Regions from separate parts of the Homo sapiens genome. Here region 1 is linked to region 2. The links come from fine-mapping of genetic effects on gene expression. Tissue or cell type: whole blood. Region 2 holds a variant in brackets; the other region holds the start of a gene. All regions are shown on one strand. Distances are between the middles of the regions.

Region 1 (4,383 bases), 51 kb before region 2:
GGTCTAGTTCCTGTCAACACTAGGAAATGGGAGACAACTACTTTTATCACGGTCAGATCACCTATAGATTGTGATCATTCAATCATACATGCAAAGAATATTACAAAATACTAACAACATTAGTATGTATTAAGGGGCTTACTAGATGCCAAGTTGCAGCAACCCTCACAACCCTCTGAGGTAAATGCCATTATTAATCAGGAGTTACGTTAACTTATCGAACTGTGGAAACTGGGATTTCAAGCATGCTCGTCTAATCACTATACTAATAATGCTTCAACCTGCCAATTTATTTTTTTATTCTGTAAGCCATAAGGAGCCAATGAAAAAAATTAAGGACAGCAGTAATGATCATCTTTACATGCTAGAACACACTACTCAGCCACGTGCAAGGTGGACTGACGCTGGGGTGAGCAAGGGTCTTGAAAGAGATAGTCAAAGTCTGGGTCAAAAATGCTGAGGAAATTCTGAGCATAAGAATGCATAGGAGAGGATAAAAACCTAAAATCTGTATCTAATAAACTTAGCTAGACTTTCTGATTGTTTTAAGTATGGGAAGGGATGAAGGAAGCTACCTCGCAGGTTACTAGCTGGGCCACTGGTTAGTAATTACTGTCCATCAATTCATGAGACAGGAGGAGGAACTGGTGCTTTAGTTTTGTGTAGCAAGCAGGAAGAGGACAAGTCTACTTAACGCGAATCAAAATGAGAGCAAGCAATTATACAGAATTTCTCTCCCTCGACAAAATAAGCTTCTCATATTACAGAGATCTTAACTTTGAAATGCTTTTCAAAATAGGGAGTCACTTGGGCTGGGAGGGGACTTCAACTAAGTCCTCATTTTACAGAGGAGGCACTGAGGGGCAAGGCTGTTTCAATACCCTGTCCAGAGTGCGCACTGTTCAGGCAAAACCAGGACTAAAAACCAGCTCTGCCGGATCCGTTCTACCTACTGCTCCTTCTGCTTCAGCTGCCCTCCCAACCTACTAATAGGGATTTACATCCCCAAATACGTTCATGTAAACACTTAGCATTCTTCAACTAAACACAAAATCAGATATGTAAGCTAAAAATCTAAAGCCAAAAACATGTATTTAATTTCCATAAAATTTCTACTTTTCTTTGGAAAAACTTTCCCATTGTGTCAGTTTCTATTCACTGTAACATTCTCTATATTTCAGGTCCTAAGACCAAAAAAAAAAAATCCTTTTTAAACTTAGGCCTTGAAGAAACGACAAACCCTCTAGGCTTAATATTGCACCATATGAAACCACTGACACAGACAAGGCCTGTTCTGCCGAAACCAGGCCAGTTAAGTCAGGGCTCAATTGCTTCTGTATCATTGTCAGAAGCCATCTCGACCTCAAGCAAAAGTAAAACTGGAGAAAGAGGCCAGCCTAACTTGCTCCTCGGCTGGTCCCCAGCAACGCCCCTGGAAACTCTGCTCCCCATCGCTAGGACCGCCCCTCCGACGCCGGGAGAACACGGAAGGAGCAGCAAGGCGCTGCCCGGCATCTGCCGCCAACTTCCCCGTCGACGGTCTGATTCAAATGCTCCCTACCTGTTTTCCATGTAGACTTGGAGAGAAACTGCGCCAGGAAAACTGTTATCAACTGTTACAGGGACGGAGAACTCCGAAATAACCAAATTACTACTTATATTCACTGTCCCATGTCTAGCGCCTTTTGAAACAATAACCAAATCCTGTAAAGTTTTGTCTGCGATGAGCAGTCACTAGGAAAAACCTGTATTCGTGATGAATTCGCCTCCCCCCCCAGAAAAGGACCGACTTTCCAAGAGCCGAAGCCCCTGCCCGGAGCGGCGGGCTCGCGGGCCCTGGGTGCGACCCCACCCAGCCTCCCCGGGATTCAGGCAGCCGGGCCCCGCGCCCGCGCTCACCCAGGTGCTCCCCGCGGCCTGCGCGCCCGCGCGCTTCTCCGGCATGGCTCCCGCCTCGGGCTCCGACGCCGCCTTCTCCTCCAGCTCCGGCGGCGGCTCCACGCTCATGCCGCGGCCATGCCCGCGCCAGCCCGGGGCGCTCCGGGACGACGGCGACGCCGCGGAGGCGGCGGCGGTGCCCGCGCCCTCATGGGCTCTGCGGCCCGCGGCGGCCTGCGGGTCAGGCGGCGGCGCCAGCGGCGGCGCCGAGGGCTGAGGAGGCGGCGGAGGCTGAAGCTGCGGATCAGGCTAGCAGAAGACCGCAGCTCCAGGAACCGACCACTTATCAAACCGCACCGACCCCGACTCTCGCAGTTACCGGCGGCGTCAGGGGCGGGCTGCACGGTTAAGAGACTGTGCCCCGCCCCGCCTCCCCACAGGCCGGCGCCGGGCAGGAGGCCCCGCCCCGCACCTCAGCTCCCGCCTCGAGAACGAGTCCCGCGCCTGAGTAGCCTCCAGCGACGCCACGCCCACTTCAGAGACCCCTCCTTTACCTCGCGACTGGCCCCTTGGCATCAGGACTTCGCGGCGCGCGGGAAGTACGTCATTTCGAGAGCCCGTACGACTGATTTCTTTTTCCGGAGAATCTGGACTGAGGCTAGCAAGCGGGGAGGGGCAAACTCGTGGGGGTTTGGTAGTGATTGCAGTTCAGTTTTGGTCTTGGTTTGCGCCAACCCGCCAACCTCTCAAGTTTTTCTATGGTTCTCTAAGAAGAAAATAATATACTAGCAATGTTTCCCAAACGTACTTGAACACAACACTTTTTATTCTTGACACATGATTAATATCTTGTAGAATGTGTAGGACGCAGTTGGAAAAGCCTGGCTTATGTTTATTTATTTTGAAAGATATGCACCTAATACTGAAATATAAAAAAGCCTACAGGCCTGGAGCGGTGGCCCACACCTATAATCCCAGCACTTTGGGAGGCCGAGGCGGCTGGTTCACCTGAGGTCAGGAGTTAGAGACCAGCCTGGCCAACGCGGTGAAACCCTGTCTCTACTAAAAAACAAAAACAAAAACAAAAAACACCAAAAAAATTAGCCGGGCTTGGTGGCGCACGCCTGTAATCCAAGCTACTCGGGAGGCTGAGGCAGGAGAATAGCTTGAACCTGGGAGCCGGAGGTTGCAGTGAGCCGAGATAGCGTCACTGCACTCCATCCTGGGCGACAGAGTGAGGCTCTGTCTCACAAAAAAAAAAAAAAAATCTTTTTACAAACATCAATAGAAAAAAGAATAAAATTATTTCTATTAACAGGATTAGTAATTTTAATTGAATTAAAGTCATTTCATTTAAGAATTTTTTCAGGTTGGGCGTGGTGGCTCACGCCTGTAATCCCAGGACTTTGGCAGGCAGAGGTGGGCGGATCGCCTGAGGTCAAGAGTTCCAGACCAGCCTGGCCAACATGGTGAAACCCCGTCTCTACTAAAAATACAGAAGTTAGCCGGGCATGGTGGCGGATGCCTGTAATCCCAGCTACTTGGGAGGCTGAGGGAAGAGAATCGCTTGAACCCAGGAGGCGGAGGTTGCAGTGAGCCGAGATGGTGCACTGCACTCCACCCTGGGTGACAAGAGTGAGACTTCGTCTCCAAAAAAAAAAAAAAAAAAAGCCTCTTTTTCGCTTCCCACCCACTACCCCCAAACACACACACACACACTTTGCAGAAGTCTTTACTTTTATTTATTTATTTATTTATTTGAGACAGAGTCTTGCTCTGTCACCCAGGCTACAGTCACCCAGCCTAGATCAGTGGCGTGATCTAGGTTCACTGCAACCTCTACCTCCCGCATTCAAGCGACTCTCCTGCCTGAGCCTGCCGAGTAGCTGGGATTACAGGTGCGCGTCACCATGCCCGGCTAATTTTTGTATTTTTAGTAGAGACGGGGTTTCACCATGTTGGCTGGGCTGGTCTTGAACTACTGACTTCAAGTGATCCGCCCCCCTCGGCTCACCGAGCCGGCCTGGTCTTTTTTCTTTTTTTTTTTTTTTTTTTGAGACGAAATTTCGCTTTTGTCGCCCAGCCTAGATCAGTGGCTCGATCTCGGCTCACTGCAACCTGTGCCTCCTGGGTTCAAGCAATTCTCCTGCCTCAGACTCTCGAGTAGCTGGGATTACAGGTGCATGCCACGACCTGGCTATCTTCTGTATGTTTAGTAGAGACAAGTTCACCATGTTGGCCAGGCTGTTCTCGAATTCCTGATCTCAGGTGATCCACCCGCCTCGACCTCCCATAGTGCTGGGATTACAGGCGTGAGCGACTACACCCAGCCTGATTTGTCTACTTTTCTGAATGATTGTTTTAACAAATAGTTTTCAAAACACAGAGGGAATATATGTATTATGTTATGCTGTTTGAGTATTATGTTTATGCCACTTATGAGCTTGGGTATCAGTTTCTGATTCCTGTATCCATGAAACAGAAAAGTTTGTAAACTGTTTTTTT
Region 2 (4,383 bases):
TGCCCGTTACCTCTGCCCAGGTGGTTGGGGGCACCCAGGCCTGTGAGGGAGGCTGGTCCCATGGCCTTCCTCTTCCACCACCACCACCGGCTGCCCAGGTGGCCCCCATCGTGTCCCCAGGGAACGCTAGGCCATGGCCACAAGGGGCTCATGGAGAGGGCAGCCTGGCTCCCTCCCAGGCCAAGGCCCGGCCGGACGACTCCTGTAAACCCAAGAGTGTCTATGAGAACTTCCGACTCTGGCAGCACTACAAGCCCCTGGCCCGGAGGCACCTTCCCCAGAGTCCTGACACTGAAGCGCTTTCCTGCTTCCTCATGTGAGTGTCCTCGGGGCGCCGGAGCTTGTCCTGCAGCTCACTCATAAAGAGGCTGCTGGATGGACAGGAGGTCACACTGTTCAGGGGAGCTTGCAGGGCGGTTGTGAGGGTGATGGGTTGTGCTATGGGAAGGTACGTTTTCAGCAACATTAATCTGGCTGCGGCTCAGGACAGACTGTCAGGGGCCTCACGTCAACTGCCTGTCACTGTCCCGTGAGTCCAGCCAATCCTTAATTTTTTTTTTTTTTTTGAGATGGACTTTCACTCTTGTTGCCCAGGCTGGAGTGCAATGGCGCGATCTCAGCTCATCACAACCTCCGCCTCCCGGGTTCAAGTGATTCTGCTGCCTCAGCTTCCTGAGTAGTTGGGATTACAGGCATGTGCCACCATGCCTGGCCAATTTTGTATTCGTAGAGATGGGGTTTCTCCATGTTGGTCAGGCTGGTCTTGAACTCCCGACCTCAGGTGATCTGCCCGCCTCAGCCTCTCAAAGTGCTGAGATTACAGGCATGAGCCATCATGCCCCGCCCCAATACTTACTTTCTTTTCTTTTCTTTTCTTTTTTTTTTTTTTTTGAGATGGAGTCTCACTCTGTCGCCCAGGCTGGAGTGCAGTGGCGCGATCTTGGCTCACTGCAAGCTCTACCTCCCAGGTTCACGTCATTCTCCTGCCTCAGGCTCCCGAGTAGCTGGGACTACAGGTGCCCACCACCATGCCCGGCTAATTTTTTTGTATTTTTAGTAGAGACGGGGTTTCACCATGTTAGCCAGGATGCTCTCAATCTCCTGCCCTGGTGATTCGCCCGCCTCGGCCTCCCAAAGTGCTGCGATTGCAGGCATGAGCCACCGTGCCTGGCTTTCACTTTCAATAATTTTCACAACAATGTTTACAGAAGACCCAGGTCAGAGAGCGTTCTTGGTGTGACATGAGCCACGGTTAGGGTTTAGGTCTTTTTTGTTTGTTTGTTTGAGATGGAGTCTCGCACTGTCACCCAGGCTGGAGTGCAATGGTGAGATCTTGGCTCACCGCAACCTCTGCCTCCTAGGTTCAAGCGATTCTCCTGCCTCAGCCTCCCAAGTACCTGGGCTTACAGGCGCCCGCCACCATGCCCAGCTAATTTTTTGTATTTTTTAGTAGAGACGGGGTTTCACTATGTTGAGCAGGCTGGTCTTGAACTCCTGACTTTGTGATCCACCCGCCTCAGCCTCCCAAAGTGCTAGGATTGCAGGCGTGAGCCACCGCACCCACCCTGGGTTTAGGTCTTTGAGTGTACACCCCAGTGCCTTCCCTCGAACTGAGTGTCAATGGCCAGGGGCACATCACATGGGGCTGGGGGGAGGAGCTGCAGGGCCCAGCAGGAACCTGGCACACACCCACACTGTTCTGCCGCGGTCCAGTTAGCACAGCGGTGGTGGAGCCTGCACAGGGGGATGGTCTTGGGACCCGCACTAGGGTCGATGCTGGGCAGGTATTAGCATCTTCACCGTCAATCCCCCCTAGAAAAAAGGACAATGGTGTTTCATTCAGAGGATGGCAAAGAGATGACCTGAGCTCACATATGACATACGTAGCACAGTGCCTGGCACATACTATGACACATTACATGACAGCAGTTATGATTACTGTCCCCATTACTACCATTATCAGGACTAGGCCATCTAGGAGAGTGCTCCCCAAAGCCACGGGCTCCAGTGATAGCTCTGAGTGCACCACGAGCCCAGCAGCCCAGAGCCGTGGACTGTGGTGACTGTGAGGCAGCAACATCAGCATCTGGGAGAGTTTGTGGTTTCATTCCCAGTCCCTGCCTCTCTCCACCCCGCGGCACCTCTGTGACCCTGTGTTTCCCGCTGATGAGCAAACAGGAGCTTGAGCATATCCACC[G/A]TGCAACACACTGGCCATTCCCCTAGGGGAGTCCCCTGCCTGGGGTGTAGGTGAAGGCGGCCCCGTCTTCCTCCCCAACAGTCTCGCTGCCCCCACACCCTGGAACTGGTTGCATCCCCCCTTGGAGCGGAGTCCCGGTGCACTGGGGACCCTGATTCTTGGAGTGTAGCCGCCCCGGGCTCACAGGCCTTTGCCTTGGCTCCTGTGGGAATGTGGGAAGCTGTGCCTGGCTGCTTGCAGTGGCTTGGACACCGCTCTGCTTTGGTTCTGGACGTGTGCTCCTGCTCCTCAAGCTCCAGGACCCTGAGGCTGTGTCCCCAGGGGCTGCCTTGCTCCAGAGTCCCCAGGAAGCTGGTTAAATGCTCAGTCCTGTGGCCCAGGAACCTGCACTTTAACCCTCGCTCCCAGGTCATTCTGTGTGCATGGTGTCTCAGTCAGCTCAGGCTCTGCCGTAACGAATCCCATAGACTGGGTGCTTTATCAAGACACATTCATGTCTCCTAGTTCCAGAGGCCAGAAGTCCCAGATCAAGGTGACAGCGGATTGGGTGTCTGGTCAGGGCCCTCTTCCTGGCTGGAGAGAGCTGCCTCTGGCTGTGTGCTCTTGTGGCTGAGAGCAAGAGCCCTGGTGTCTCCTCCTGCCCTTATCAGAGCTCGGATTCCATGACTGGGACCCACGCTCATGACCTGCTCTAACCCTGATTGCCTCCAAATACTGACACACTGACACTGAGGGCTTCAGCACAGGAATGTTGGGGACACACATGTTCCACCCATAGCACTGAGTTCGCTTGTCAACATCATAACACCGAGGACTTGAGAGGCAGTCGGAGAGGCCACTCAGTGGCTTCTATTGATGTTGGATCTTGGGGGTGTGTCCTGGAGGCTGAGGAGCCCACATGGGGGAGAACAGGACAGGGACAGATGGCAGGACAGGTGTGGGGAGGACAGGAGCCAGGTGTTGGGACCAGGTGGGCCCGGGATGGAGGGTGGGCTTACAGACTGGGACTGACTGCACTGGTTTACAGCCCAGTTCTCCGATCCCTGGCCCGGCGGAAGCCCACCATGACGCTGGAGGAGGGACTGTGGCAGGCCATGCGGGAATGGCAGCACACGAGCAACTTTGACCGGATGATCTTCTACGAGATGGCGGAAAAGTGAGTCTGGGGTCCTGGGGGCAGGGCCCGTGTGGCGGGGTGAGAGTGAATGACAGAGGCCCGGTGGCCGTGGTGGCTTCTCAGCATGGAGCATGAGGAGGGTGTGGACAAACACAGGATGCCCTGGGCCCCTGGCTCCCTCAGGAAGCTGCTCCTGACACCTAGAGTGCTCTGGGGTCTCTGTCCCGCCCTCTTGGGAAGCACCCCCTGCCTGGCCTGGGGCCAACCGCTGTCTTGACACTGGGGGTCATGGCGGGAGCAGCCAGCATCGCAGCCCAAAGGGGGTCTCCTCCAGCTGTGGGGATGGGGAGAAGGGGTGCTAGTGACTAAAGACAGAGTGGGGGGCAGGCTCCTCACAGCAGTGGCCAGAAGTCGGTTTTCTCCCATCCCAGCCTGGCCAGGGAGTTGGGTCAGGGGAGACCTGTACCTGGGACACCATGAGACCCCTCTCTGGCCTGACTGCCTTTGCTCCTGGGCAGAACCGTCCGTGAAGACAGACAGACAGCAGCCTCAGGGGAAACGGGCCCTGTCCTCTGGGCTCAGCTTTTGCTTCCTCCTGACCAGGGGTCTCCCGGGCCTCGTGTCCCTGGGTTATCCTTCAGGGGCCCACAGTCCCAGCCTCAGGACTCCTGCATCTGGGCATCATCCCTGACGCCTTCTGCCATCAACCCCACCCCCGGCCAGCTGATACCTGGAGGAGGGGTTCCCGGGACCCTCCTGGACCTCGTGGCCCTGACTTGAGTCAGGAAGCCCCATTGATGCCATGGGCTCTGCAGGGGCCGGGTGAGGGAGGGTGAGCCCAGAACTCTGGGAGCAGCTCCCTCCTGGGACTGGGGGATGGGTCCCAGTGAGGGCCTGGACAGCCCGCCGGAGGCACTCCCTCCCATCCCTGCCCTCAGCTGCTGCCTGGTCCTGGGGGGAGGGGGCCTGGACCCTCTCAGCACAGCCTGGGCCTCCTTCACCCACAGGTTCCTGGAATTTGAGGCTGAGGAGGAGATGCAGATTCAGAAATCGCAGTGGATGAAGGGGC

What was found. PIP is the estimated chance that this variant, and not a neighbour inherited with it, causes the effect.
Region 1: SLC71A2 starts here. The variant in region 2 is fine-mapped to the expression of SLC71A2 in whole blood (INTERVAL, PIP above 0.99). The same link has a PIP of 0.9 or more in T cells, adrenal gland, blood mononuclear cells, cerebral cortex, monocytes and nucleus accumbens.

Annotation. Positions count from the first base shown.
Region 1 is chr9:94,372,444-94,376,826 of GRCh38, reverse strand. SLC71A2 (solute carrier family 71 member 2) reads right to left here and starts at 2,258. Exons shown (of 12, transcript NM_032558.3): 1 at 1,900-2,258. The coding sequence starts at 2,007. RefSeq lists enhancers at 1,489-1,988, 1,989-2,490 and a silencer at 2,040-2,439.
Region 2 is chr9:94,321,171-94,325,553 of GRCh38, reverse strand. NUTM2F (NUT family member 2F) reads left to right here. Exons shown (of 7, transcript NM_017561.2): 2 at 1-316; 3 at 3,225-3,353; 4 at 4,322-4,383. It overlaps LOC105376154 (a long non-coding RNA gene), which reads right to left. Exons shown (of 3, transcript XR_930132.4): 3 at 1,552-1,812. Among named protein-coding and RNA genes, the nearest start is that of NUTM2F, 5.3 kb to the left of the region's middle. The variant G/A (reference allele first, on the strand shown) is at 2,198.